Homo sapiens: one gene and its partners. The protein of the gene in region 2 purifies or fractionates together with the protein of the main gene of each other region. This does not show direct contact. Each region holds a gene or a part of one and is shown on either strand. Other genes may lie near its edges.

Region 1 (5,123 bases), on a different chromosome or scaffold from region 2:
GGCTGGTTTTGAACTCCTGACCTTGTGATCCACCCATCTTGGCCTCCCAAAGTGTTGGGATTACAGCCATTCATTAGCCACTGTACCTGGCCTGATTTTTTAAACATATAAAATATATAACCTGGGAGCTGTGAAGAATTGGTGTTTGGCTTATACATTTTAAAAATGGTTTGTCCTACTGGGTAAATCCAAGTACCCAAGAACTGCTCACAATACCTTTCCATGAGAGGTTGTGTAGAGCAACTCAGGCCAGCCTTTCTGGATCAACCAACTTTCACTCGGCTCAGACACCCTTACAAAGGAACCCACTGATCCTTTCTGATGCTCTTTCTCCCCTGTCAAAGAGTACTAGATGGCACACAGAGGAGTCCAATTTCAATCTGGCCAAATTTCTACATGGGGCAAACTTTTATATTCTGCCTGTCCCAATCCAACCAACCATGAGAGCAAACTGCTGGGCCAAGACATCACTGTTGGTCCCAAAGGACTGCCGGTGTCCCGTCACCACGTTGGTCAACAGGACCCGCCGAGACAAGCCTGGCGGAGACAGAGATGGGCTGGTAAGATTATGTCACATGTAGTCTGGGGAGAGGGACAACTACATGGGGTTTTAAGGCCTGTTAAGGCCTCTTCTCTGGGCACCTGGGGAGCCAGGCTCACCTGTACTGAAGCAGTTATTTGCTTGGATATTCAGGGACCAGGCACAGGACCAGGCACCAGGGATCCGGAAACTGCAGAGCATGCCAGGCCGGTCTATTCCTGCTAAGGGGATAGGAGAATGTAAAGTGTGGCTGCCTTCTAGGCAGGCCAGGGACCACTGGGTTCGGAAAACATCCAAATATGCCCATAGCTGCTCAGAGGGTCTATACCTTTGGCCCCATTCTGGGTTTTGTGGTTGCAAGAGAGACTCAGCTGGGATGCCTGGCTCACAAGTGGTTATTCCGAAAATGCATCTTTGTTAACGTTCCCAGTAGTCGTGTTTACAGTACGAATAGTACTGATATCAGGGAGGTAGTATACTGTTGGAGGTAAGGTGGCTCCGATCCTCGATCACCTACCAGCTATGTGATCTCAGGCAAGTGTGTGTGTATATACACACACACACACACACACACACACACACACACACACACACACACAAATAAATAAATAAATAAACTATATATATATATATATATATATATATATATTTTTTTTTTTTTTTTTTTTTTTTAAGACAGGGTCTTGTTCTTTTGCCCAGTCTGGAGTGCAGTGGCGTGATCATGGCTCAATGCATCCTCAACCTCCCAGGCTCAAGGAATCCTCCCATCTCAGCCTCCCAAGTAGCTGGGATCACAGGTGTGAGCCACCACACATGGCTAATTATTTATTTTTTGTAGAGATTGGAGTCTTGCTATGTTGCTCAGGCTGGTCTTGAACTCCTGGGCTCAAACGATTATCCTGCCTTGGCCTCCCAAAGTGTTGAGATTACAGGCATGAGCCACTGTGCTTCGAAAAAATATTTTTTAAAATAAACTTTTGCATTGATAGAACGTACAGATTGTAAGGATACAGTTCAGTGAGTTATCACAAACTAAATATAGCCATGTACCCACCACCCAGGTTAAGAAATAAAACAATCCATGCCAGGCGTGGTGGCTCACGCCTGTAATCCCAGCACTTTAGGAGGCCGAAGCGGGTGGATCACCTGAGGTCGGGAGTTCGAGACCAGCCTGACCAACATGGAGAATCCCATCTCTACTAAAAATACAAAAATCAGCCGGGTGTGGTGGTACATGCCTGTAATCCTGGCTACTTGGGAGGCTGAGGCAGGAGAATCGCTTGAGCCCCAGAGGCGGAGGTTGCGGTGAACTGAGATCGTGTCATTGCACTCCAGCCTGGGCAACAAGAGTGAAACTCCATCTCAAAAAAAAAAAAAAAAAAAAAAAAAGGCCGGGCATTGTGGCTCACACCTGTAATCCCAGCACTTTGGGAGGCCGAGGCAGGTGGATCACGAGGTCAGGAGTTCGAGACCAGCCTAACCAACATGGTGAAATCCCGTCTCTACTAAAAATACAAAAATTAGCCGGGCGTGGTGGTGTGCGCCTGTGATCTCAGCTACTTGGGAGGCTGAGGCAGGAGCATTGCTTGAACCTGGGAGGCGGAGGTTGTGGTGAGCTGAGATCGTGCCATTGCACTCCAGCCTGGGCAATAAGAGCAAAACTCCGTCTCAAAAAAAAAAAAAAAAAAAAGACAAGACAAGACATAAAACAATCCAGTACCCCAGAGGCCTCCCTCACATCCCTTTCCCAATTACTACCTCCCCAAAGGGTACTGTGAGCCTGACCTCCAACACTAAAAATTACTTTTGTAAGACAAATTCTGAAACTGTCTGCCTCAGTTTCCTTATCTGTAAAATGGTGGTAAGACACACTCCTGCCTCATAAGCTTGCTGTGCAATGAAATACCAGGCACTGGGCTAAATGTGCATGATCTCACCTAATTCTCCACGGATGTGGACTGAGAAGGCCCTGTCCACTTTAGAGAGGTTCAACATTCCATTCAAGTTGGCAAGGGGCAGAGCTGGGATTCGTGCCAGGTCTGCCTGAAGCCCACACTCTTAAGAGGCCTCTCACCCTGGTCTTATTGATCCTAATTTTCTGATAGACTGAAATGTAATATCCAGAATGCTGTCAGGAAGGAGGAGTCAAATTGCCTTAACGTAGGCAGACTGTTAAGTATCCCTGATAGCACCTGAGGTGCTTTGGACCTTCAGAGGTGTTTTCTGAATGATGTGCACGGGCGTCCGAATCTGTTCTGAGCTCACGCTGGTTTACATGCGTGTTAAGTCTGCTCTGGCTGCTGAAATGACTGAAATGGCCCAAGATGGGTAAAAAGGGGCAGATGCTGTAAAAAAAACACATGCTTCTGGTACTAACCCTGGGACAGGCTTAGGGAATCCTCCCACAGTGCCTCTGCAGCGGCCCCATACTTCTCTCTAAGCCACCCCCACACAGCTCTCGGGAGACAGAGGACAGATTTCTTTAAAGGAGGAGAACCCTGTACCTGGGTGACTATTGACGAACAGTGATGCTGGGAGCAGGGTGGCACAGCCTGGAGTCTCTGCGAGTCCCATGAGGCATAGCCTGGAAAAAGCTGTTAAGGACAGTTAGGCACAAGGCTCCCCTCTGGGAGGAGGCATGGACATTTACCCTTCAGAAAGTCATACGGCACACAACCTAGGCCAGAGTAACCCCCACCGTCCAGATTCAACATGCGTTTACACTGCCCACATTTACCTTCAGATGTTTTTTTTTTGTTTGTTTGTTTTTGAGACGGAGTTTCGCTCTTGTTGCCCAGGCTGGGGTGCAATGGCGCGATCTCGGCTTACCGCAACCTCTGCCTCCCAGGTTCAAGCGATTCTCCTGCCTCGGCTTCCTGAGTAGCTGGGATTACAGGCATGTGCCACCACGCCCGGGTAATTTTGTATTTTTAGTAGAGACGGGGTTTCTCCAAGTTGGTCAGACTCGTCTCGAACACCCGACCTCACGTGATCCGCCCGCCTCGGCCTCCCAAAGTGCTGGGATTATAGGGGTGAGCCATCGTGACTGGCCAGCTTCAGATGTTTTTTAAAGGGAAAAACAAATCAGATATAGTTAAAAGCTGGGTGTGGTGGCTCCTGCCTATGTAATCCCAGCACTTTGGGAAGCTGAGGCAGGAGGATCACTCGAGTCCAGGAGTTCGAGACCAGCCTGGGAAACACAGCAAAACCTTGTCTCTACAAAAAATACAAAAACTAGCTGGGCGTGGTGGTGTGTGCCTGTAGTACCAGCTCCTTGGGAGGCTGAGGTGGGAGGATTGCTTGAGCCTTGGAAGTCAAGGCTGCGGTGAGCTGTGATCATGTGACCGCACTCCAGCCTGGGTGACAGAGTAAGACCATGTCTCAAAAATAAAATACTATTAAAAAGCCCAAAAAGCCCTCTCTGATCCCTCCCTAGTCCAATTCTCCCTTCTCCTCTACTCAGAGAGAACTGCTCTTCTCAAATTGGTGTAAGTTCTTCTAAGCCATGCTGTATTTCCACTACATATATTTGTCAATAAATAACACAAAGCAGCTTTTGTTTAAAAAAAAACATACAGAAATGGCATTGCATGGAATATCTCACTACCAGCCCTTAAAATTTCTGCTTATCTGAATGGGTACCAGGTGATACCTCACTGTTATTTAAATTTGCATTTCCCTGACTACATGTGGGTGTCTCTGTTCACATGAGCATAGTCGTTGGAGTTCCCTCTCTGACCTGCCCCTTTATACCCTTGCCTACGTGTGTGTCTTTTGACTGACGCGGTTCCTCTCCTTTTCCCCTCATAGCCAAACTTTGTTCCAGAGGAGCCTGTATTTATTCTCATTCCCTTGCCTTTCCTCCACTGAAATCCAGGCCTGACCCTCACCTTCCCAGAGAAATGTTCTCATCAGTCTTCAATGAGCCTCTGGTTTCTAAATCTGATGGAAACATTCCAGTTCTGCCCTATGGCCATGTAGCCCAATTTCTACTACACACTCCTTGGCCTCAACCCACCACTCTCTGGGAGGTCTATCCTGGCCTTCTCCTATCACAAGATGCCCGGGCTAGAGCCTGCACCTGCCTCTTGGTGCCCTTCCCTCCACTCCTGATACCTCGTTTCACGCCCTCACCACCGCCCTTAGTCTTGCAGCAGCTTCTGTCTGAGGACTTGCTCTCGTCCGTCTATCCCCCAACAATGCCACCAAAGGAATCATTTTCAAAAATGACTCCACAATCACAACCCCCTGGGACCTCCCACAGCCCTGAGCGAGCATTCAGTCTTGAAAGGCCCTGCTCCCTAGCCAGAGACATCATGAATATCAAACTGCTGCCAAACATACCAAGCTTTCTCCCAACTCCTCCTATTAGGGGTCCCTGGCCTCTTCCTGCCCTCATGGGTCTCCCTCCAGGAAGGTGGCTGCAATCCCTCCTGCATGCAGCTTTCCTCCTACACTGAGGACTTGTGGAGCTGCCTGTCTCTATCTCCTTGCAACTGCATATACTCGATAGGTGTTGTCTGAATGACCACACATATTCCTCACTGGAAAATGTAAATATCTGAAAAGCAATCATGTAACT
Region 2 (5,123 bases):
GAAGTTCAAGACCAGCCTGGCCAACATGGTGAAACCCCATCTCTACCAAAAATACAAAAATTGGCTCGGTGTGGTGGTGTGTGACTGTAATCCCAGGAGGGAGCCTGAGGCAGGAGAATTGCTTGAATCCAGGAGGTGGAGGTTGCAGTGAGCCGAGATCGCACCACTGCACTACAGCCTGGGTGACAGAGTGAGACTCCATCTCAAAAAAAACAACAGAAAACCTGATAGTAATTTTGCATCTAATATCTTAAGTCTCTCCCCAACCCAGTTACTGTGACTCTTATTATTCTATTCAGTCATAACAGAATGGAAGAAGGCTTAAAAAATGAAATTTTAAAAAGCAAAGAGACAGTCTTCTTTATGAATGCAGAATAAAAACATTAGAACTTTTTCAATTTCAACCTAAAAGGAAACCAAGGCCAAGTCTATGATAAAAGACCGTGAAAATATTAACTCTAAGACTGGGGCAAACACAGACTTTGTTACCAAATCCCAGGGTATGAACACCAACAGCTGTCAAGACTGTAAGGCAGATTTAGTATTAACTAAACCACTTTTCACATAGTATGCAAACTTATGAAAGTAGTATGTAACTAGAGACTGCATACATTGGTAACCACAATACCAGGACCCAAACACAACATCAGGACCCAAACACTGTGCTATGAGTCTGACCTTTCTATATCTCTTATACTGCACAGGACTAATTAGATTGATAAACATTTCAACTCTATTTTTATTCACGTTTGATTAGTTAAAGACTTTTCATTTCAAATACTTTAAACAGGAAAATTTAGTAAAAATTTAACATAGTATCTGAATCAATCTTTTTATCAATAAAACAAATACAATGAGTATTTTCTCGTTATATCTATTAGCTTACGTAGTTTATGCTCTGTGATTTTTGAGAAAAAGAAAAGTTTAGTAAATACCTTTCTATAATATAAAAGAATATGTGTATAAGACATTAGCATAGCAGGCCTGGAGGCTAAAATGAAGACCCTAGTCACAAGGCACTAAAAATGCTCTTTAAAACAGCCCCTTCCTACATGGCACGTATATACAACAATCATTTCTTACTTTTGTCACTTTTCTCCATGCCACTTATTTCAGAGAAAGCTTTTTCTAGTTTTGCAATGGTCTGGGCATCCATTTCTTGAGCTCTTTTCACAGGCTCTAATAATCTCAGTCTTCTATTCTCCTCCCTGAGGGAATGATTTTCCATAGCATACTTTGCAACTCTGGGGTGGTGCTCTATCTGTGACATAGAAGAATTACACGCATTATATATTTACAAACATTTCCTTAGTGAATTAGTTCCTCTAAAAAGCCATTAGAAAACTAGGTATGCACATGCACTACTGGTGGTACCCTTCTGCAACCACCATGGAAAGCAACTTGGCATTTGTGATCAGTTTGAAAATATGCATGTCCTGTAACTCTCCTATTCTCAGTTGGAGTCTAGACCCTTGAAATGTTCACCCACCTAAGGAGGTAAGCACAAGGGTGTACATTGTGGCAGGCTTTTCATGCAAAGGAGACTAGTTAAATCAACACACTGAAAAGAACAAGGACCAAATTAATCTTGTCAACCAAGATTAACTGAAAAAGGCGAAGTGCAAAAAAGTGTACAGGAGAAACAAAAGTACAAATATCCACCCATATTAGTTTGAATATTCATTAAAAACTCCAGAGAGATAAACAAGAAGCTGATAAGAGATTTTGGGTTTTCCCACAATGTACCTGTATGACCTATCCATTCTCCCTAAGGAAAAGGAAAAACAACAAAAACGTTAAAAGGCACAACCCTAAAGAGCCTACTGACTCAGATAACCACAACTGCCCACTGGGTGAAATTCTGCGTGGCCTGCTAGAGTAGCATACTATGTAGCAATGTCACCACAACTTCTTCCTTCTCCCCTTCTCTTCCCTTTAACTATTTTAAAAAGACAGGTAAAGGAATTATGCAATCACACTGTCAGAAGAATTCACTTAAAACAATTTCCATTGTATTAAAGAACAAGTACTTGCTGACAAACTTAGATTTGCTTTGAACTTCTTTTATTTTTAGAAATATTATAGATGCCGTATACTCACTTGTTCTCGCAGAGTTTGAATCTCATTCCTTAATTCTGAGAGCAAACGATCCTGCTCCTCAGGCAGAAAACCTCCCCGGGATTCCTTGTGGAGCTTTTCCAAGCGTATTATTTGATCCTCTCGGAATTTCACAATCATTTTATTAGATTGAATAAATTTTTCCTTTTTGAGGGTGAGGTCTTCTAATTGGGTAACTTTTTCTATCAGAGACTTAAAGAAATTCATAATTTGGTTAAACATGAAAAATAATTTGACTTCCCTAAATTTTCGTAAGTCCAGCAACAAATACTAATTTCATATTTAATCTTAAAGGCAAAATTTGATTTTTCATAGCCTTCCATTACTTTATTGACTTGGTATTATTTATTTCACTTAGTAAGGCAATAAAAACCACACAGCAAAAAACTAACTATCTTGAATCTCCTTTATTACTAATTCCATTTCCTACCTTCTTTTCCTGTTCAGATTTCTTAAAGAATAACATTGCTTCCTGGAAATACTCCATATAGTTAGTCTTCTTTTTGTCTGTAATTGATCCAATAAGAAAGGGAAGATGAAAAAAAATATTTATCACATTGCAAAACCAAGAGAACAGATAGCCTTTAATTGATTGCTCTCAACTAATCTAAAAGAATGAGACTGTGGCCGGGCACAGTGGCTCATGCCTGTAATCCCAGCACTTTAGGAGGCTGAAGCAGACGGATATCTTTCTTGAGGTCAGCAGTTCGAGACCAGCCTGGCCAACATGGTGAGACCCCCCCCTCCCGCCGCCCCCGATCTCTACTAAAAATACAAAAAAATTAGCTGGGCATGGTGGCGTGGGTCTGTAGTCACAGCTACTCAGGAGGCTGAGGCAGGAGAATCGCTTGAACCCAGGAGGTAGAGGTTGCAGTGAGCTGAGATCACACTGCTTCACTCCAGCCTGGGTGACAAAGAGAGACTGCGTCTCAAAAAAAAAAAAAACAATGAGACCGTCATCACTAGATCACGGATTTCAAATTAACCATTCCACATATTAGTCGTTCTTCAAAGAATAAGTTTCTCTTTATTTAGTTAATATGCACAATAGATTACACATGGTGTAACAGAAGTAGAAGTAGATTTTTTAAAAAATTAGAGGAGTCCCAGGGTGCTGTGCACCTCTTAAGATCTGTTAATAATTCACCCTCTTGCCTTTATGGATTTCCAGTTAATTAATTCTCTACTAGCTATTCTTTGAAGAAAAATAAGTCTCTCTTATCCTATAGTAAACATATATAGATTACATATGCTACGTAGAAGTAGATCTAAATGAAATTAATCTCTTTTTAGCACTTATACATTATTCAAAATTATTTTAATTCCCCCTTCTCACTGCCTATGGTATCTGTATCTGATTATAAACAAACCACTATGTTCCTATATAGGAGAAATAAGCAGAAAGAGATACCTGCAGAAAAATTTGGGTTGCCTTATTGTGTTGTGTCTATCACCAAGGGCTCTTAAACTATTATTTGTACAGTCTTCCCCAAGATAAAGGACTGTGTGCTCATCCTACCTCTGGTCAGGAAGCTTTCTGGTGGTGTCTGTCCTGAAGCAAGCTCCGCCAGTTGTTCTTTGAGCCTCTTCACTTCAGCTTGGAGCTGGCTCACATTTCCTTGGGTGTCTTCATTTACTACTGCCTGTTCAGGAATTTTTTAAAAAGCATTAAAATAATGCTTTTTGAGTAGTATAGTCCTGTGTTTACATTTGTTTGGTATGATTTGTAGTGATGAACATCAAACAAAACTTCAAGACCACATCATAGTCAAAAGGACACAGGAATCACAGTGTGCTCAAGTGGGGAGGAAGCTTCCTTTTCTTGTGCCTTCAGACCTGGAGCCAGAGAGAGACAGCCCCAGCCAGGCTCTCTGCCCCCCAGCTGACTAGCCCTGAGCTTTTAGGCTGGGTCACCCTTAGGATCCGGGTGTGTTCACCTAATACTTCTTTCCCTGAGAACGACAGCCTTCCCCCACCCTCCCAATGGAGAAGAGCCAATACCTCAGTGAGTATCATTTCCCTTCTTTCCTAGCTCCCTACGGGGAAGGAGCCTAGCCTCTAAGTGCATGATGACTTGCAGGGTGGGCTTGAGCTTGGCAGAAGCAACCTTCTCCAGAGGAATCCGACCTTTATTTTTTAACAGCCCTCTTGGAAGGAGGGGTTGGTTTGACACTTCCTTTTTTTTTTTTTTTTTAATTTTTTACCACACTAAATGATTATCTTCATTTTCTTAAAGAAATGTCTTATTTAGGACAACTTCTAAAAGGCTAAAGGACTCACAAACAAAATGTGCCACTGTGGGGCAGGATGTCAAGAGTGGGGCAGGTCACACATGTGCGCCACTGCACTCCAGCCTGTTGACAGAGCGAGACTCTATCTCAAAAAAAAAAAAAAAGTTGATTAATTAAAAAAATAAAGCTTTAAAAAGGTCCACAAAGCCTAAAGGGTGATAACGAGTGCCAACAGCTGAGTACCAACCAGGTCAGAGGACTCAGTTGTGAAATACTCAGTACTCCAGCAAGGAAAAAACACCCTGTGACAGCCCCAAGGTCTTCTGTATTCTCGCTGTAAGCCCAATTTGCTCACGGAAAAATTTAAATAGCACATCCTTAAACAAGTCCCAGATACTCTGGCACTTTCCACTGATAGGCTGCAAAGGGCTTACCATTGAGAGTGACTAGTAGAAGGCTCTTGGTTTTGTTCTTTTGTGTGTTAAGCAGCCATTTCCAGTTGCTTCTGATTCTTATGGCCAGCCTCATTACAAGGTACTACTGCACTTCTGACATCACTGTCCCATCAGTGACTTCATAATTCTAATTATTGCTGCAGTTCTATATCTCCAAAGACTTCTAGTAAATCTTAAGAGACTTAGGGTCAGGAAGCTCTAATGATTTTTCCTCCTCATCTTACTAGTACTCCATAGTCCAAGGAAATAAAATAAATGACTAGATCTATAGTCTTCTGATTTACCCAGGGAAAGGGGCAACATGGACCTCCTGATTTAC
Region 3 (3,960 bases), on a different chromosome or scaffold from region 2:
CTTTCTAAATAACTGTAAACTTTAAAAAATGTTTTCGCTTGCAAAAACAGAAGGATATAATAAAATGTAGAGTGATTTGGAGTTTCCAAGTATTTTCACATCCCTTATCCAATTTAATTTTCTTGATAACCCAAAAAGAGCATTATCATTAAACCCATTTGATGGACAAATAAAGTCTGCTGGGATCAACTTGCTGGGGATCCTGGACTGTAAGTCATTCTTCTGAATCTTAGTGTGGTGCTCTACCAGGCAACACTGTTCCGAGTAATGCAATTCTCTTCTTTTCCTTATTTAGTCAAAGTGTAATTGAATTAAATACTGGAGAAAGTATAAAAATTTAAAGCTACATAAAGTTAATTTTAGAAAAAAAGGTTAGATGATATACTGAAGTATCCTATTGAAAAGCCTGGCTCTTGGAAACCCATTTAGTAGAAGAAAATATAACACTTAGAAAAGCAGAACTCTCTTCCTTGAAAATATATTTAACAAATTCTTCCTATGTAATGAAACTGTTAGGGCCGGGCATGGTGGCTCACACCTGCTAACCCCAGCACTTTGGGAGGCCGAGGTGGGCGGATCACCTGAAGTCGGGAGTTCGAGACCAGCCTGACCAACATGGAGAAACCCCGTCTCTATTAAAAATACAAAATTAGCCTGGCGTGGTGGTGCATGCTTGTAATCCCAGCTACTTGGGAAGCTAAGGTAGGAAAATCACTTGAACCCAGGAGGCGGAGGTTTGGATGAGCCAAAATAGTGCCAGTGCACTCCAGCCTGGGCAACAAGAGACAAACTCTGTCTCAAAAAAAAAAAAAAAAAAAAAAAAAGAAAAGAAAACGGTTAAGTAATTATCAGCATAATTTTTATATAGCTAGGTGTCATAACTGTATTTTTAATTTTACCACACAATGTTATCCTTAGCTGTACCTATTAGGAAGGCTCAGTATCCAACACATTAGTAAAAAGCTAAAGTAATATTCAAAGCTGTAGAGAAACTTAACAGCAAGGATTGAGAGCATACCCTCAGACTGCTACCTTGTTCACATTTTTACTACCATTAATCTGATACATTGCTGTGCTCCACAGTGCTAAACACCCATCTTAATTAATAGTAGTTCTATTTAAGCATAGAAATGTCTTTTTTTGAAAGTCAGAAGTGAAGCTTCTGTTTACAAGTTTACCATATGGCAGACTGAATTATTTTTCCTACCCTACTGCTCTATAAAAGTAGAAGTAAACAGTATTTGCAATAAAATTCAGGATTTAAAACTTTTTTATTGCTAAAATCAAGTTGCCTTCATACTATCCCTTTTGTGTGGTTATAACAGGATTTATTCCTCCTCAGCTTTCATCTCTTTACCTCTTGACCACACTATTAACTACCGAAAAAAAACCGCAGCTGTACACGTACCTAGGTTTTAAAATCATACACTGAAAAACTAACTAAAATTACACTCCTAAATAACCTAAAACTGCTTCAAAGTTATATTCAATATTTTGAAATAAAAGCAAGCGCCCCAAGATGAGAGGTGCAAATAAATTATAGAAAGTGTATTTTCAGGCTTTCCAACCGCGAATGCTCTTTGTTTCTAACTGGAAAGGAGGAGTTAACAGAAAATAGAACAAGAAGAAAAAGTATGACCTTAGAGACACGTCACTTTACTTTGGTTGACAGAATTTCGTATATAAAAACATCTTAAATTGTACTTCCTCCCAAGCTTAAAGTCCTTAGAATGAGAAAACCGAAAGGCGAACCCAAGGCCAGCACATTTTATTTCCGCTGTCCCAGAAGCGCGCTGGGCGCACCCGAAGCTCCGCTCCAACAGCGCCGCGCCGCGCTCTCAGCAGCGCCTCCCGCTGGCGTCTCCCCACCCCACACCCAGGTCGCCGCCTCTGGCACACCTGGACGGCCGCAGGTGACCGGCGACCCACTCCGAGGATCTGGTAGAAACCGGCCAGGAAACCACTCCCGCCCGGAGGAGCGAGCCACTGTCAACTGGCCCGGAGGGACGTGCCCACTGCCAACCATGGGAGAGGAACGAGCCTCTGTCACCCCTGCCGGGTCACCCTGCCCTGAGGGGCGCCCACTGTCACCCCTGCCGGGAGAGGCGTCCCCATGGTCACCCTGTCCTGAGGAGCGCCGTCGCTTTCGTCCCTCCAGGTCCCCACTGCCACTCTGGCCGGGAAGGGCGTCCACTGTTATGCCTACCAGGAGAGGCGTCCCCAGTGTCACCTTGGCCAGGAGGGACGCCCACCGTCACCCACTCCCTGAAGGGGACTCAATGTCACCCCTGCCTTGAGGGGCGCCCACTGTCACCCTGCCGGGAGAGGACACCCACTGTCACCCCCGCCCTGAGGAGCGCCCACTGTCACCCTGCCGGGAGAGGACACCCACTGTCACCCCCGCCCTGAGGGGCGCCCACTGTCACCCCCGCCCTGAAAGGCGCCCACTGTCACCGGCTCTCTACGCCGTCCGCTTCGGGGTGTGGCGGTCCGGGAGGGATCCGGGTGGGGCCCCCCTGACAAGCGCACCCTCTCGCCTGGGCCCCGGCCCACCCGCTGCCCGGGGCCACCGCGTCCTCGCGGCCGCCCTCGTCGCGGACTGCACGGGTCGCAGCCTCCCGGGAGCCCCTCCGGGTTGCGGGGTTCGGCCTGCGGCGCTCGTCACCTCATGAGGTAGTCCCGGAAATCCTTGCTTCGGACATAGTCCGCCGCTTTCCGCACCAACGCGCCCGCCATGGCTGTGCCGACACCAGACCCCGAGTGGTCCCTGCCTCTGCTGCCGCTTCCCAGAGCCAATGACACCCCGGCCAACCCCCCGGCAGCCGACGGCGAGCCAGCCCGAAGGCCCGCCTCACGACACCCGGCCACGCCTTACGGCCGCGCCGCGCCGCCCGGCTCTCGGCCAATGACAGGGCGCAGGGCCAGAGATGGTGGCGCGGACTGGCTGGCTCGTGCCGCACGCCTCCTTCCCGCCCTCGGTGGCGCACGGGGGCGGGGCCCGCTGCCGTAAAACGGCTGGGGCTGGGCCGGGGCTGGCAGGCGGTTGCTAGGCTCCAGCGGCTCCCGGCCAGCGGGGACGTGGAGGTGACATTTCTCTGACCCACAGGACTGTGGGCGCCCTGCCGAGCGTCGCGCGGTCTTGGGGCGACCTGCAGTGGGGCCCCTGCGGCGCAGCGCGCGGTGGGACTGGCCGGGTTCCCGCGCCGCCCAGGGCCTGTGTCTGCGCCGGTTCCTGGCAAGGGCACCTTGGCCGGGCGGCCCGCGTCCCCTGCGCTTCCCACACCCACGTGGGCGGACCCGGCCCGCAAGCTGGGCCAGCCTGCGGTTTCCGGGCACTGGGGAGTGCGCAGAGCCCCGGGCCAGCGACCGCAGCCGGGGCCCCTGGCTTCTCCCGAGCACTTTCCCCCGGACCGGTCCCTCCAGGGTGGCGGGCGGCACCCAGGGCCGGCGCTCCTCACCAACGCGCTGCAGCTACGGGCTCAGGAGGGAGCCGCAGCGTCGGAGGAGGAAAGCATTTAAGAATAGCACAAAGCCTTAGGCTCGAGGAAGCGTGACTGCTTACGTGTTGAAAATAAAGGTTCTGTAAGTCCCACCGCGGGTGCATATTGAAAAGAAAGGGATCATTAGCACGCGACCCTCGCCTAGGAGTATATAAACCGCAGCACGACTTTCGGATCACAAAGGCAGAGAAAAGAACACATTGAAGGCTTTTGCTCACTTTTCCAAGTTGTTTCGTTTCGTTTTGTTTCTAATGTGGACGATCATTTAAAATGCCTCTGGTGGCCGGGCGCGGTGACTGACGCCTGTAATCACAGCACTTTGGGAGGCCGAGGCGGGCGGATCACCTGAGGTCAGGAATTCGAGACCAGCCTGGGCAATACGGTTAAACCCCCTCTCTACTAAAAATAAAAAAATTAGCTGGGCGTGGTGGCATGTGCTTGTAGTCCCAGCTACTTGGGA
Region 4 (5,123 bases), on a different chromosome or scaffold from region 2:
CCCGAGGTAAACACAGGGCTTGCAAGCCTGGCCAGTGCCCCAGGCATCCGGCTGCCAAGACCGCTCCTCAGCAGCTGATGAAGAAAGACCATCCTCAGCAGCACTGACGTTTCTGTTCCATTCATTTTACTAACTTATTAAGCCCATCCCAGATGCCAGGTACTCTGCAGAATGAGTGAGTGTGCGGGAGAGGGAAGGGGGGAACTTAAACCTTAGATGGGATCTCTACATTCCAAGAACTAGCTGGAAAAACAGACTTCAGTTCAATAAGAAAGTTGAGGCATGGGGGTCAGGGGGCCACTCTAAAACCTTACAATGGAAAATGGGCTAAGCCAAGAGTCACCCTTTAAAAGTGACATCCCAACCTGGTTGTCCTATTTACATCATCATTACTAATTATACTAATTATAACACTTTGCGGCGGTTCAAAACGTTTCTCTCTACAAAAGGCTTTCATGTTTATTATTTTGGTCCTAATAACAATCCTATGACACAGACAGAAGGAATGGTGCCCACCCATTTTACAGATGGGCACATGCCATTCAGAAAGGCTTCAACACCCAAGCAGTAAGTGGTGGACCGGGCTGGAATGCAAGCCTTTGAATAAGGAGTCAGCAGACCTTTCCATACACTGTGCACACACTCGAATATCTTGCACGTTAAAATGATGTGAGATCATCTGGCTATGTCTTAAATTCTCTTTAAATATGCCCAGTTAAGACATATGAGCTTCAGAGAGTCCTTTAAGATGCTTCATCTCAACCCAACAGTGGGAGAAGGCACACGTGAATCTCGTATGGAAACTCTCAGGTCAATGACAAGCTGTCACCTCTTTATCAGTGATGTCCACGGTTCACAGCCAAGAAGGCAGCCCTGGAAAACAGGAGCTTCTGTCCCTGCCTTCTGGATCTCAAAAGCTTCATGAGTTGCATCCTGGTAATATCCCAGATGAGGCAAGCCCAGGCTGAGTCGCAACTGCCCACCCACAAAGGGGAGGGTTCACAGCAGAGCCCTGCCTGGGGAGGGCGTCCAAAACCACACACTGTGCTATTTACGAAGGTGACACTCTGGTCCCGGCAGTGGGAGACACAGAAGCCCCAGTCAGGAGGCCCCTGGAGAAGCAGCCTTTACCACGGCTCTTAAGTAGTCTCAGCTCTGGCTGCCAGGCTAGAGGGCAAGGAGGCCAGCGCCAGAGGCTTACCCAAATGGTCTCATAATGGGGCGGGCAGGCGTAGCAGGTGCCCGGCGACTGACCTACTGCAGAGGCCAGACCCAGGATCTTCCTCCCAGACAACTTGACTCCACAAGCATAAAGACACTGAAACACCTCCCTGGAACCTGTGTTTCCTTGCAAAAGTCAACCTGGTTCCACTTAGGTGTAGACCAGATGTCTGAGTAAAACTGGTTCCCAAGCCACAAGCGCGCCCCCTGGTGGTTGGAGAACAAGCCCTTCCTCTCCTCGCCAACAGTCAACTCTCTCTGCCGCCCCTAAAATCATGGCCCGCTAGGCTCAGACCTGGCCACCCTGAGAGGCTCAAGATCAACCATCTGGTGCCCACCTCTCTTCCTGCTGCTGGGCACTAGAGACCACATCCTACAGAGAAAGGGAAATCCAGAGGCAGCTATCAGACCGCATCCTGGGCCCCTAACACACAGAGAAATTCACACAGAGAGCAAGATAAATCATTCAGAGAGCAGTCAAGTGCAGCCCCATCCCCTGCCTGTCATAAAACCACACCCCGGAATTAAGAGGCTCATTCTCTTTTCGGATATTTGGAAGTCGGGAGGAGGGGAGAAAACAGAAAAACTCATTCTAACAAGAGGTCTGAAGTTGCCTCCAAAGGTCAAGAATCTTAAGACTTGGCCATTCTGCAAAGAACTATTTGTCTTTGAAGCCTCAAAGAGAAAGTACTCCAGGGCCCCAGTACTCCCGGGCCAAGATCTCTTCTCCATCAGCACTAACAAAATAATCAACTGAAGTCTGACCCTCGGACTCATGAGCATTTAAAACCTGGATTAATATGCCAGCAAGCTCTAAAGGTAAGGGTCCTTCATTTGGGAAAGTCACAGGACCTTCCCTAGTTAGAGGCCTTTCTTGCTGGGTAAATATCTAATTCTACAAAGGGAACCACAAGCTCAGTTAAGCCAATTGCTGGCTCTTATCTTAACAGAAAAGTTCAAAAAAAAATCCCACTTACCCCTCAATGGGTGCACATATTATTTCCTGTGCCTCCACCACAACCCAGCTGCCTCCCTAGCCACATTAATTCCACCCTCTACTGATTAGTGGTGAAGTGACCCCTTCCAAAACCGGCGCTTAGTGGATCTGGTGACTCAGAGGCATCAAAAGCTGCTGTCCTCTCTCTCTCTCTCAACCTCTTCTGAGACACTAGCCCGGGATAATAAGTAACCCACATTAGTGAATACTGCTTGCCACTGTTTGAAGTCAGCACTGGAAGACTGCAGGTATTTACTGTATGTGCATCGCTTTCCCCCTGTTTCAACAACAAAAAGCAAGATCAAAAAGGGTTCATGGCCAGCAGTCCTAACTCAACAGACCTGTCAGTCTCTGCAGCACACCCATCCACCCATCCACCATACTTAAAACATCTGCAAAGTCCACAGCATCAGCCCACCCGCCCCCGTCAAAGTCTTACCTGTATCCACTGTCAACAGTTTCCGTGGACCTCACACTCGCCGTGGCCCTCAGAGTTTTGCTGGACAAGCCAACCACGGTTGGCGAAAGTTTGCACTTGAAGTCGGCACAAGTCCACTCCTCTTCTTCATTCAAGGTGGGGAGATAGCCACACACGACCTTTAGGCTCCCGAGTCCCCCATTACTCATGTAAGCTGTGTTTTCTCCCCCACTCCTCACATATTCGAGGTATATATCAGAAGTCAAAAACATCTGGTAGGCATTTTCCTCCATCACCGACTGGATCTCGGTCTGCGCCTGGTCAAACATGATGGAATCAATCTGCTGCTTCTTGATGCCATCTCTTATGTAGGTCTTGGTGGCAGGCTTCAGCTGCTTGGAGACAATGCTGTTGTTCTCAATGTACCTTTTGTAGATCGCTTTGGCTACTCGTAAAGTTTTGGTATCCTTCAGGTTCATCTGCCTGAATCCATTGCAGGCAAACCAGAAGTCTAAGGTATCCACGCATTTCTCCCTCTCCAGGAAAGTTCGGAACAGGTAAGCACCGTCTTGATCGCCCAATAAGGAGTGTAAGGACTTGGTCCACCGGGTCAGAGGGGAATCCGGAGATGCCCGCCCCTCCGGCTCCCCCAACCCATCTTCGTTCCGCCTGGTGTTGGAAGAGACAGGCATGGGTTTGGTGACCTGGCCCTTGCCCACCCCTGGCTGACACGGTGGGGTCTCCCCTTCTTCCCCTGGCACTGGGGGCCGCGGGGCATCCTCACGGAAGCTGCTGCTGGGGTCCGGGAGGCAAGTCACCAACATAGCGCTACTCATGGTGAGGGAGCTCTTCCCACTGAGTCTGGGAATTTTTCTTCTTCCAGTTCCTCTCAGCAATCGGCGTGGTCTCTCTGTCTCTCTCAAGTCAGCAGGGGCTCATCTGAACCTCCTCTCTGGAAAGAAAAGGAAGGGGGGAGGTGGGGAGAGAGAAAAGGGTATTGATCTAATCAAAACCAGATCTACCCAACATCAAAGCAAGAAAGTAAACAGGCTTTTCAACTCCTCAAATTCAAATCAAGCAACCCAGCTATCTGCGAGGTGCTCATCTAAAGTATCAGGCGCTGCTTTTCAAAAGCGAAATCTGAGCTCCCTGCACACTTTTCGGGGTTGGGGGTGGGAGGGAGCTGTTGGGAAAGAGGCGGGGAAGGTGAGAGGAAGGCAAGAGCTGGGGACGGCAGGGGGACACTGGAGGTGTAAGACACAACCTTCCAAAAACCCACTCGGCCAGGGCGCACGCAGGGCAGCTCAGCCCGCGCCTCGCCTTCCCTCCCTTCCCCTCCCCCGATACCATCAACTCCAAAAAGGCGCACTCCCAGCCGCTAGGCTGTGTGCAGGTGAAACCAATTTCGGTATATTTCCCCACTCGGCCCTGCACAGATAACTCGAGCTCCAAACGTGCCCTTCCCCGGCATCTGGTTCCCATTCTCCCCACCCACCCCCTCCCTCTGCGCTCCCTCTTCCCACTCCTTAAAAATTCAGAAGATCCTGGCCCAAGAGAAGCCCGCCCAGCATAGGCGGATTGGGCTCCCGGACTCCCAGATTCAGCACGCAAACACCCCCTCCCCAACTCAGATTTGAGTGTTCGCTACGCGCCCCCTACCCCCACCAAGAATCCAGCTCAGTCAACACCTCTGTCTTCCCTGACCTCCCCCCAAACCAGAAACCAACTCACTCAGGGGAGACTTTCATCTTCAAACTTTGAGAGAGAGCTGAGAAGCCTCGGAACCGTCGCCCCCGTGCCCCCAACCCACCTCCCGGATCCGCGAAACCTACAAAACTGGATCACCAGCCGTCTCACGCCACTACTGCCTGTGCCAAGAATCCCAAACTCTACTGATTTCAAGCCTGTCTTTTTTCCAAAGAAAAAAGTCTTATCTAACCAATAAACAAGCTGCTTTCCCTAGCACGGAAAAGATCAAACTAAGAAGGGTAGGGGCTGAACGGGGTGCAACCCCGGGCGAGAAGCCAGGGACCCCGGATCTGGGATGGGTGCACGCTGAACCCGACCAGAGCCTCGAGCCGCGGGGCTGGGCGGCGCGGCCCACGGAGAAGTGGGGCTGCCGTTGGCACCGCGCTACCCGGGCGGTGGGAGGTGGAGCGGCCCCGTTACCTGGAAGACGAAGGCCGCCGAAGCCAGGCTCTCATGTCCTCCGAGCCCCTCCGGCCCGGTCCCCCGGCCCAAATGCAACTGAACGCCTCCAGAGCCCTGGCGGGCACACCTCGAGGCCGGAACCCCGGGACACGCCAGCAGCGCCCCGAGCCCGGGCGGGGGGTCGGTCCCCGGCGCCGCCGTTTGCAGAGGCGCCCGCAGAAAAAGCACAGAAAGCAGCAGCCTAGTCCAGAAATGGCGACGCGCGGAGTCTCTGCCTCTCCGCAAAAGGGGCCGGGGCGGCCACGGGCGAGGGGCCCGGGCCGGGAGGAGGGACGC
Region 5 (4,735 bases), on a different chromosome or scaffold from region 2:
CCCCGCCCTCCCTGCGCCGGCCCATGATGTGTCAGTCAGAGGCGCGGCAAGGACCAGAGCTCCGCGCGGCGAAATGGTGAGATGCTGCCCACCGCGCCCTAACCCCACGGTTCCCCGCCACGACCTCCGGAAGGTCAGAGTTCACATCCAGCGGCCTCGCAGTAGAGGTGGCGGCAAGGGGACTGGTGGTCAGCCCCCGAGGCTGGAGGAGCCTGGCCTGGGGGGCCTGAGCACCCTGAGTCGGAGAGCCCGCTTCAGGTATCTTTGGTTCCAACCATGAGGAGGGCCCAGCAGGGGGAGGCTGCCAGCGAGCCTCAGACCTCATGCCTGCGATCTTCCCTACCCTGGTGCTCCCAGGCCCCCTGCTCGCAGCCCAGACCCTTGCCTCTGCACCCCACCTAGGAGAGAGGCTTCCCCATTCCCCTTCCTGCCCATGGGAGGGGTGTAGCTCTTCCCAGTTGGTCCCTGCTCTTCTGCAGTGAGTGGGGCAGGTGGCAAAGCCAGAGGGGAGCAGTGATTTGTCTTTGCTTGGCCCCTGCCACCTTCCTGGACCTTTTAAAAATACACCGGGGTGCGATGGGAGAGAAAGTAGGCACCCGGGAGCTGCGTGGATGCAGCCAGCTCTGAGCCTGAGCCTGAGCGGGGTTCGCCACTGGTTCGCCTGCCGTCTGCTCTGCTGCTATCAGCTGAGATGCTGCTTTGTTCCTTGGTTTGCTCAGCAACTGGGAGAGAGGACTCAGCTTCTCTTGAGAGCACAGTCCCAGATGGCAGCCGTAGATTAGCTAAATGCAGTTACTTTGCAGATGAGGAAACTGAGACCTGGGGACGTTCTGAGTGGATGGCAGTGTGGTCTCCTGCTGGCTACCCTGGGCCTCAGGAGCATTTGCTAGGCCTAGGCACAGACAGGGTGGGGTGGGCCTTGTTTAGGCGCAGGAGGCCAGGGTTGTGGTGGAAAGGCCCGTCCAGCCTCTGCGGCTCTGGTGAAGCTGAGCCCCTGCTGAGTGCCCTGCATTTGTGCTGGGAGGGTGGGGAGAGGCCGGATCACAGAGAGGCTGGATGCAGAAAGGAGGGGCTTGGGTCTCGTGTGTGTGTGTGTGTGTGTGTGTGTGTGTGTGTGTGTGTGTGTCCACCTTTGCTGAAAGGAGGGGCTTGGGATGGGTGTGTGTGTGTGTGTGTGTGTGTGTCTGTCTGTGCAGCCCCAGCAGAGCAGACAGGTGGCTTGAGAGCTTGTGGTGGGGAGGTTTTGTTCACAAACCTGTGGATGGGTTTTCAGAACCTGGCCTGTTATAGAAAGACCATGCAGATGGATGGAGCCGTAGCTGTGTGGTGGTGGTAGGCGGAGTGTAAATGCTCCCTTTGAGATCTTGTCTGGCCTTGGCCCCGTAATTTAGCAGATGAGGAAAGGGGGGGCCTGGAACCATGAAAAGGATATCCCAGATCCTGCAAAGGATGGTAGCGGAAGACTCAGCAAATGGTTACCCAGCTGGCTGGGTCGTAGCTCCTCAGCGCTATGTGCTGCCGTGCCAGTGCCTGTGTGGCAGAGCTGGCCCCTGGGGCCCACTCTCCTGGGCTGCGGAGGCTGAGGGATGTGAGGCAGGCCCTACACCCTGCTCTCCCCTTCCTGGGCCCAGGTGCTTGGGCCTGGAGGCCCTTGCTGGGAGCTGCTGCAGCTGAGAGGTGCCCCGCAGCTGGGCCTGACTCTCCTCTTGCGGCTGCCCCCACATTCCCAGTCCTCCCCAGCTGGCTGGCGGGTGGGAGAGCCTGGGAAATGAGTCCGCTAGCCAGAGGCAGCCAAGCCCCTGAATCAGAATGGGGTTGGGACGAGGGGGCACAGCCAGTGCTTGCTGGGCTCCATCACCCCCATGGAGAGGCAGCTTGCCAAGGGTGGGTAGACAGGAGGAATCCTGCCCTGGGTGCAGGTGGCAGCCTCCTGGGTCCTGCCCAGAGCCTGGCCACTGACCTGGCTGTGCATGGACCTGTGCCCTGCAGGTTGCACTTCCCCCAGCTGGCCCTGAGGCGGAGGCTGGGGCAGCTGAGCTGCATGTCCAGACCCGCTCTGAAACTGCGCTCCTGGCCCTTGACCGTCCTCTACTACCTCCTGCCCTTCGGCGCCCTCAGACCGCTCAGCCGGGTGGGATGGAGGCCCGTAAGCAGGGTAAGTGTGCACAGGCCCCTGTGGCTCGGACCTCCCTTCCGGGCAGGCCTGAGGTTGGGGTGCAGGAGAGACTGAGGTGGTGGCGAGCTGTCAGAAGCAGAGGTCACCGCTACATCTTCAGGGGGTCCGGGTCGGAAGGTTCATTGGTGGGCAAGGCCAAGGCAGCTTTTGAGAAGGCCACTACCTGGGCCGCGGGTGACTGCGAGGGCATGTCGTGCCCTGCCCACTCCCCTAGCCTGCCTCATGTCTGCCATTTGGGGCTCTGGTTCTGGAAGGAACCCAGTCTGGGGATTCAGAAAATGGTGTCTGTCTCTGATTTTTCTGTGTTCAAGCAAAAAAGAGCTTATAGGTGATTTTGAACAGAAGCCAAATTAATTCCGGGATGCCAAAGGGGTGGTTCAGGATGGATGGATCCTGTTTGGGTCCCTTAGGGTGAGGACACCCTTAAGGAACCCAGAGGCATGCCCCAGGAATGGGCAAGGGAACTGGCTTGTCCTCTCCTGGTCCCTAGAGGGCTTGCTCTTGCCCTTGGCTTCCCAGGCAGGTTGACCCCAAGGAGGAAACCCTGTTCCTGGGCCTTTGACAGTCACATGGGTGTCATCAGAGCTCAGGGGCACTGAGGCACCCTGGACATTAGCCCAGGCTCCCACCTGTGCCTGGGAAGGGCCTGGGCTCACATAGCCCTTCTGTGTGACTGGGCATCAGCTGGAAGGGATAAGAGCAGCTCTCTGGGAGCTTACCTTACCTTGGAGAGGTGTTGAAAGTTGGAATGAAATCAGTTTTACACCTTGGGGAGTTGGTGTCTTGGTTGTGTTTAGAGAAGCAGCAGCCACCAATTACAGGCAGCTTCTACAGTGGCAGCAGCACCTGAAGTTTAAGAGGCTGCCCCTTCCTGGGTACCTGGCCCTGCCGGAGAGCTCTGGGACCATCTAGTGGGACCCAGTGCTTGTCCCCAGGCCATCGTCTGTCTTAGGTGCTCCAGGCTTCCCTGAAGGAAGAGAGAACAGAGGGGCCTGAGGGGATGACTTCTCTTTGCCTCCTGGGAGGAACCCCAGGTGCAGATGGCTTTATGGCCTGGCTCAGTCACAGTAGAACGTTGAACACAAGTCCTGCCGTGGGGCCAAGGTGGGGCTCAGCAGGGCTGGGCTTCTCAGACTGGCTGCATCCAGGCCCTCAAGAGTGCTGGCTGGACCTGTGGGGGCTGCAGACCCTGTGTCTGCAGCTCAGGCCCAGGTGACAGTGACATCGCAGACCTGCATCTGAAAATCCCTGTTGGTGCTCAGGGTATCCTCCTTCTTCCTGTTAAGACAGAGGGACACACTTTGGGCTGTAGACTTGTTCCATGCACTTGGGAGCCTCCTCCTTTGGTGGTCTGGGATATGGGCAGTGACCACGGGCAAGATGCCCACCACCTCTCCACACACTGTGATATTGGGGTCACCGTGGCTAGGGTCACACACTGTGGTTAGGATCAGATCCGTTTCCGACCCCCACTTTAAGAAGTAAGACTGCTGGGCGTCTCCCGTTCTGGGACTGGAGCAGTTGCTATTTGACTTTTGCATGAAATGATGAAATCCACTGGAGTTGTATGTAAATCCAGCACTCCGTGTGGCAGGTGCAGTCTGGTTCCCAGTGAGAAACAGCCACATCACAAAAGCAGCGTGGGGCACCTGGGCCCTGGTGTCCTCCGTGGGGTGCAGATTCTCCCCTGAAGTGAGAGCTGGGCTAATGACACTACTTGGGCTCTCTGGAGCTGGGGCAGTGTGGTCAACTCAGCCCCTTGCCCTGTGGCCTGCAGGTGGCTTTGTACAAGTCAGTGCCAACGCGCTTGCTGTCACGGGCCTGGGGTCGCCTCAATCAGGTGGAGCTGCCACACTGGCTGCGCAGGCCCGTCTACAGCCTGTACATCTGGACGTTTGGGGTGAACATGAAAGAGGCCGCTGTGGAGGACCTGCATCACTACCGCAACCTCAGCGAGTTCTTCCGGCGCAAGCTGAAGCCGCAGGCCCGGCCTGTCTGTGGCCTGCACAGCGTGGTGAGGCCTGACCCTTTCCTCCTGCAGGAAACAGGACTTTTTCCTGCCTCCCCAGCACAGCCCCCCTGGTCTCCAGCGTATCTGGAAGGGGCAGGATGACAAGGGGAGGTGGGGGCTGTCTCCTGGGGGGAGGAGACCCTGCTCTCCCTGGCAGCAAGCCTCTCCTGCCCTTCCAGATTAGCCCATCGGATGGAAGGATCCTCAACTTTGGGCAGGTGAAGAACTGTGAGGTGGAGCAGGTAAAGGGGGTCACCTACTCCCTGGAGTCGTTCCTGGGCCCGCGTATGTGCACAGAGGACCTGCCCTTCCCACCAGGTGGGTCACTGCACAGGCGGGGCTAGGCAGCCCTGCTGCTGTGTGGCTGGACCGGGAGGGAGGGGAATGCTGGGGAAGGAACTGAGGCTGGCATGTGGGGCCTCCCTGAGAATCCATGTGCAGACCACACTCGGGCTCCGTGCTGGGTGCTCACTGTGTTGGTGGCCCCCACGTCTGCTCCTACTCCACAGCCGCGTCGTGTGACTCCTTCAAGAACCAGCTGGTCACCC
Region 6 (5,123 bases), on a different chromosome or scaffold from region 2:
TCCTAAGTACAGGGGAGGAATGAAAGTAATGAAGATTTGAAAGTTCATGTAAAATTAAAGGGGACATTGTTTAACTTGCCTTGTCAGCTCTCCCTGTGTTTTTTTCTGTTACCTCCAAATTCTGGTTACCCATATTTACCTTGACAGACAAAAATTGTCCATTGTGTCCTAATACCAAGGTATGTCCTTTGAGATGCCCCCATTTTCCAGAGACCTATTCCTCCTATACCTAATAACCTTCAGGGCAGCCGAAGTGATGAAAACCTGCAGGACTAAAGCACAAGATACAAATTCATTAGTAGTTTTACTGTTCAGCTTTCATGATTTCTTAACTCAGCATTAATCTAAAAAAGAGACTTTACCAAATTCCTACCTTAACTTTGTCACAGAAGAATTTACAGCTGGTTGCTAAAGATAAATGAAATTCTGTATAAATGACATGACGTATTACTATAGATGTTTGCGGGCCATGTCGTATCTACTATAATGTAGTGAAGTAAGTGCGATATATCATGGCTAGTTAATACAGTTGTTATTGAGTTTGTCTCACTGTGTTTATAATTTCCAGTCTGTGTATCTGCCCTGCTTTTAAAAAAAAGAAAATTAGTTTTTTAGAGATAGGGTCTTCTGATTTTGCCCAGGCTGGTCTTGAACCTCTGGCCTCAAGTGATCCTCCCATCTCAGCCTCCTAAAGTGTTGGGATTACAGGATTGAGCCACTGCACCCTGCTTTTTGAAAACACTTAGAAAGTTTAAGTTATTGGAGGAAATTATATTTGCATAATCAAAGAATTTCTCATTCTGCAAAAGGAAGCACTCAGTAATAATAGTTAATATTTAGTGTTTACTATTTGCCAGGTACTACCAAAAATACTTTTCATCTGTTAATGTATCTACTCCCCATAAAACCATAGGAACTATTGTTTCTTTTGTTTTGTAAATGAGACAAGGGCCCAGAGATGTACTGGGGCTGGAATTTGAAACCAGGCAGCTTGCTGCTAGAGCCTGTACTCTTTGAACTATTATGTCGTATATTTTTCTTTAGTGCTTGTGCAGTATATTTGCAGTCTTTTAGAAATTTTAATAGATGACAGGCCTGGTTGTCCGTTTAGAAAAACTGTAGAACATTATCCTTTACAGCAGATATGAAATGTAGAAAGATGTGGTTTTGTTATACAGAAGTAAGATTTTATGGAGATGGCTTGTTATTTATTATTATAAATGTTTATGCTTTGACAAACTGTCACTACTCACAATTTGCAGGTTTTAAAATGATGTCATGTTGTGTATCACATCTAAAATTTTAATGGCAAGCCTTAAAAGGCTTTGGAAGTATTTTAGTTATCTAATTCTGATTTTCTAATTTGAATGGAGATTGAGTAATTATTGATGATATTGTTTCTTTTGCTCAACCTTCAACCCTTTCAGTAATAACTTACTTTCTTGTACCTGCAAGTCCAGATTTTATTACCGTTTAACTAAAAAATGATATATAATCATGATTATTGTATTCTGTGTATTAAGTGTGCTAAAGAACTTAAGAATTTTTAGGATTCCCTTTCAGAGCCTAATATATAGTTCACATGAACTGGGTGGACACTTAATGAACCTTAAAACTTAGTTTAAGTTCGTCATAAAAAAACGACAAATCATTGATACTTGTCCCATAGCCCCACACCATCTAGAACATCTCTTAGGATTAGGAAGTAAGTTAAAATGGCCTGTAAATCGCAAAAGTCCATGGGAAATTCATGTACTTACTTTTAGAAGCATGTCAGCCCCTTGACACCTTAAAAATGTATTTTTTAGTAGCAGTTAAACTACATGCTTCCCAGCCAGTGGTATATTGTTGAGGTAGTGCAGGGTGATGATAGGCTTGTATAAATAGGTACAGTGATGGTATATTAGCAAAAAGAAAGACAAACACTAAAATCCAGCCAGGTGAGGTGGTGTGTGCCTGTAGTCCCAACTACTCAGGAGCCTGAGGTGGGAGGATTGTTTGAGTCTAGCATGGGTAACATAGCGAGACCATCTCTTTTTTTTAAAAAAAAAAAAAAAAAAAAAAAGACACTAAAATCCAATGAATAGCTTGAGGCCACTTTTGGAACAGATTGATGTGTATACTTTAATCTAAAGGATAGGTTCAACACAGTGCTTATGTCTTTAAAAACAGGTTGACTTGGCCGGGCACAGTGGCTCACGGCTGTAATCCCAGCACTTTGAGAGACCAAAGTGAGTGGATCACCTGAGGTCGGGAGTTCCTGACCAGCCTGGCCAACATGGAGAAACCCCGTCTCTACTAAAAATACAAAAGTAGCCGGGTGTGGTGGCGCATGCCTGTAATCCCAGCTACTCAAGAGGCTGAGGCAGGAGAATCACTTGAACCCGGGAGGCAGAGGTTGCGGTGAGCCGAGATCATGCCATTGCACTCCTGCTCCTGCCTGGGCAACAAGAGCGAGACTCCATCTCAAAAAAAAAAACCAGGTTGCTTTAGGATAACTCTCAGGAATCAAGAGTGTTAAACATTTGGAGAAACGTTCTGTCAAGTGATCGCAGTAGTTTTAGTGTGTAAATGGGAGAATTTAAAATATCTTGGAATGTTTAATAGGAAGCTTTTCCTTTGGGAACATTAATTAAACTAAGAATTAATGCTTTCTAATTTCACAGGCTCCACATGAGACAAAGTATGAACTCTGATTTTGTCTTTTTTTTTTTTTTTTTGAGACAGTCTCTCTCCTGGAGTGCAGTGTCATGATCTCCACTCACTGCAACCTCCATCTCCAGGGTTCAAGCAATTCTCTTGCCTCAGCCTCCTGAGTAGCTGAGACTACAGGTGCCCACCACCACACCCAGCTAATTTTTGTATTTTTAGGAGAGACAGTGTTTCACCATGTTGACCAGGATGGTCTCAGTCTCTTGATCTCATGATCCGCCCGCCTTGACCTCCCAAAGTGCTGGAATTACAGGCATGAGCCACCATGCCTGGCCTGTCATTTTAATCTATCCATATTTATGTATTTTGTTTGTGTCTAATCACCTATGGGTTAGTGTTTAAGAACACAAGTTCTGGAGTCACATCTATATTTGAATCTTGCATGTTTATTAATGTGACTGTGGACAAGGTAACCACACTGAGCCTTAGTTTCCTCATATAGTCATAAGTATTTATTGAGCAACTACTGTATACCAGAGACTATTTTAGGAGTTAGGGAAACATCAGTGAACACAAGATTCTAGGCCAGGTGTGGTGGCTCATGCCTGTAATCCCAGCACTTTGGGAGGCCAAGGCAGGCAGATCATCTGAGGTCAGGAGTTCAAGACCAGCCTGGCCAACATGGCAAAACCTCATCTCTACTAAAAATACAAAAATTAGCCGGGTGTGGTGGCGAGCACCTGTAATCCCAGCTACTAGGGAGGCAGAGACAGGAGAATTCGCTTGAACCCGGGAGGGCAGAGGTTGCAGTGAACCAAGATCGGGCCACTGCACTCCAGCCAGGGTGACGCAGCAAGACTCTGTCTCAAAAAAAAAAAAAAAAAAAAAAAAGATTCCAGTTGAAAGAGAGAGAACATAAATAAGAGAAGATAATATTATCTATATTTAGGGGTCCCCCCCAAGATTAAGTAGAGTAATGCATATGTAGTTTATCCATAGTGTTGAATAAATATGGGCAACTCTTGTGTGTGTGTGATTGTGATTTGTCATGCTTAGACTTGTGTTGGGATAAAATTGTTGTATATTAGTCATCTCTCAAAAAGAATTTTTAATTGCTGATACCAAATATATTGGTTTTCTCTAATATTATTAAGGGGCATAGGGGAAGTAGAGGGATGGGATGGGATAGCATTGAATCTCATCAATATGTGTACTTTTACTTTCTTTTGTAACAGCCACCAAAAAAGACAGCCAAAAGAGAAAAACCTAAACAGAAAGCTACTTCTAAAAGTAAAAAATCTGTGAAAAGTGCCAATGTTAAGAAAGCAGATAGCAGCACCACCAAGAAGAATCAAAACAGTTCCAAAAAAGGTATGTTAGAAATAACATTAATCAGCAACTTTAAAGATATAGCATATATTAATATGTTGTACATAGTATTTAAGTGTGTGGGAGAAACAGGTAAACTGCAGAGAACATTGCGGGGAGAAGTAATACAGGTTGAATATCCCTTATCTGAAATGCTTGGGACAGGAAGTGATTCAGATTTTGCAATATATATATATAGAGAGAGAGACAGAGAGAGAGATATCTTGGGGATGGGACCCAGTCTAAACATGAAATTCATTCATGTTTCATATTCATCTTAAATAGCCTGAAGGTAGTTTAATATTTTAACTAAATAAATTATTTATTGCAGTGGTGCCGTTACAGCTCACTGTAGCCTTGAACTGCTGGACTCAAGCGAGTCTCCTATCTTGGCCCCCCAGAGCACTGGGTTTACAGGCTTGGACCACTGCCCTTGGCCTGAAACCAAGTTTTGACTGCGACCCGTCACACGAGGTCGGGTATGGAATTACCTCCTGGTGGTGTCATGTTGGTGCTCTGAAAAGCTGGATTTTGGAACATTTCAGGTTTTGGATTTTTGGATTAGGGATGCCTAACCTGTATACCAGTTTTTTATAGTTTTTGATTTTTCAAATTGACTAAAATTTGTATGCATGTTTTATAGGTAACTGTAGAGTAGTGATTTATAATTTTTTTGATCCAGTACCCCTTTGAGAATCTGTTGAAAGCTTAAAATTCATCTCAGCCTTTGTTAAATGTTAATTTACTATGTAAGAAAAATTATTATTATTATATTACTTTTAGAAAGTGAGTCTGAGGATAGTTCAGATGATGAACCTTTAATTAAAAAGTTGAAGAAACCCCCTACAGATGAAGAGTTAAAGGAAACAATAAAGAAATTACTGGCCAGTGCTAACTTGGAAGAAGTCACAATGAAACAGATTTGCAAAAAGGTAATTAGACAAATGTTTAGATTATTTTGCTTTTGCTAGAAAAATTCTTTCACTTATCTCTGAATTTGAAGCTAAATACTTACGTGCATTCACTTATTGAAGAAAGATTTATTGAACTACTATATGCCAGATCTCCTTACAGGTGCTGGGATACCACTTAAAATAGTCAAA

The links.
Region 1: the proteins of KIF15 (region 2) and DCAF4 purify together in Homo sapiens (co-immunoprecipitation; one large-scale study listed by IntAct). This does not show direct contact.
Region 3: the proteins of KIF15 (region 2) and MPC1 purify together in Homo sapiens (affinity purification with mass spectrometry, with the first as the bait; one large-scale study listed by BioGRID). This does not show direct contact.
Region 4: the proteins of KIF15 (region 2) and AXIN2 purify together in Homo sapiens (affinity purification with mass spectrometry, with the first as the bait; one large-scale study listed by BioGRID). This does not show direct contact.
Region 5: the proteins of KIF15 (region 2) and PISD purify together in Homo sapiens (affinity purification with mass spectrometry, with the first as the bait; one large-scale study listed by BioGRID). This does not show direct contact.
Region 6: the proteins of KIF15 (region 2) and DEK purify together in Homo sapiens (affinity purification with western blotting; one study listed by BioGRID). This does not show direct contact.

What each region holds. Positions count from the first base shown.
Region 1 is NC_000014.9:72,949,800-72,954,922, reverse strand, and holds part of DCAF4 (DDB1- and CUL4-associated factor 4), read right to left. Parts: intron 3,126-5,123; coding exon 3,046-3,125; intron 763-3,045; coding exon of another isoform or gene 760-762; coding exon 661-759; intron 538-660; coding exon 440-537; intron 1-439. UniProt on the Homo sapiens protein: May function as a substrate receptor for CUL4-DDB1 E3 ubiquitin-protein ligase complex.
Region 2 is NC_000003.12:44,798,952-44,804,074, reverse strand, and holds part of KIF15 (kinesin-like protein KIF15), read right to left. Parts: intron 4,881-5,123; exon of another isoform or gene 4,787-4,880; coding exon of another isoform or gene 4,784-4,786; intron 3,762-4,783; coding exon 3,638-3,761; intron 2,626-3,637; coding exon 2,549-2,625; intron 2,311-2,548; coding exon 2,101-2,310; intron 1,262-2,100; coding exon 1,084-1,261; intron 1-1,083. UniProt on the Homo sapiens protein: Plus-end directed kinesin-like motor enzyme involved in mitotic spindle assembly.
Region 3 is NC_000006.12:166,380,141-166,384,100, forward strand, and holds the start of MPC1 (mitochondrial pyruvate carrier 1), read right to left. Parts: upstream 2,801-3,960; 5' UTR 2,737-2,800; coding exon 2,666-2,736; intron 1-2,665. UniProt on the Homo sapiens protein: Mediates the uptake of pyruvate into mitochondria.
Region 4 is NC_000017.11:65,555,149-65,560,271, forward strand, and holds part of AXIN2 (axin-2), read right to left. Parts: exon of another isoform or gene 4,368-5,123; intron 3,589-4,367; 5' UTR 3,473-3,588; coding exon 2,658-3,472; intron 1-2,657. UniProt on the Homo sapiens protein: Inhibitor of the Wnt signaling pathway. Down-regulates beta-catenin. Probably facilitate the phosphorylation of beta-catenin and APC by GSK3B.
Region 5 is NC_000022.11:31,621,104-31,625,838, reverse strand, and holds part of PISD (phosphatidylserine decarboxylase proenzyme, mitochondrial), read left to right. Parts: exon of another isoform or gene 1-23; coding exon of another isoform or gene 24-76; intron 77-1,989; coding exon of another isoform or gene 1,990-2,155; intron 2,156-3,953; coding exon 3,954-4,190; intron 4,191-4,307; exon of another isoform or gene 4,308-4,366; coding exon 4,367-4,505; intron 4,506-4,696; coding exon 4,697-4,735. UniProt on the Homo sapiens protein: Catalyzes the formation of phosphatidylethanolamine (PtdEtn) from phosphatidylserine (PtdSer). Plays a central role in phospholipid metabolism and in the interorganelle trafficking of phosphatidylserine.
Region 6 is NC_000006.12:18,236,281-18,241,403, reverse strand, and holds part of DEK (protein DEK), read left to right. Parts: intron 1-3,887; coding exon 3,888-4,023; intron 4,024-4,803; coding exon 4,804-4,952; intron 4,953-5,123. UniProt on the Homo sapiens protein: Involved in chromatin organization.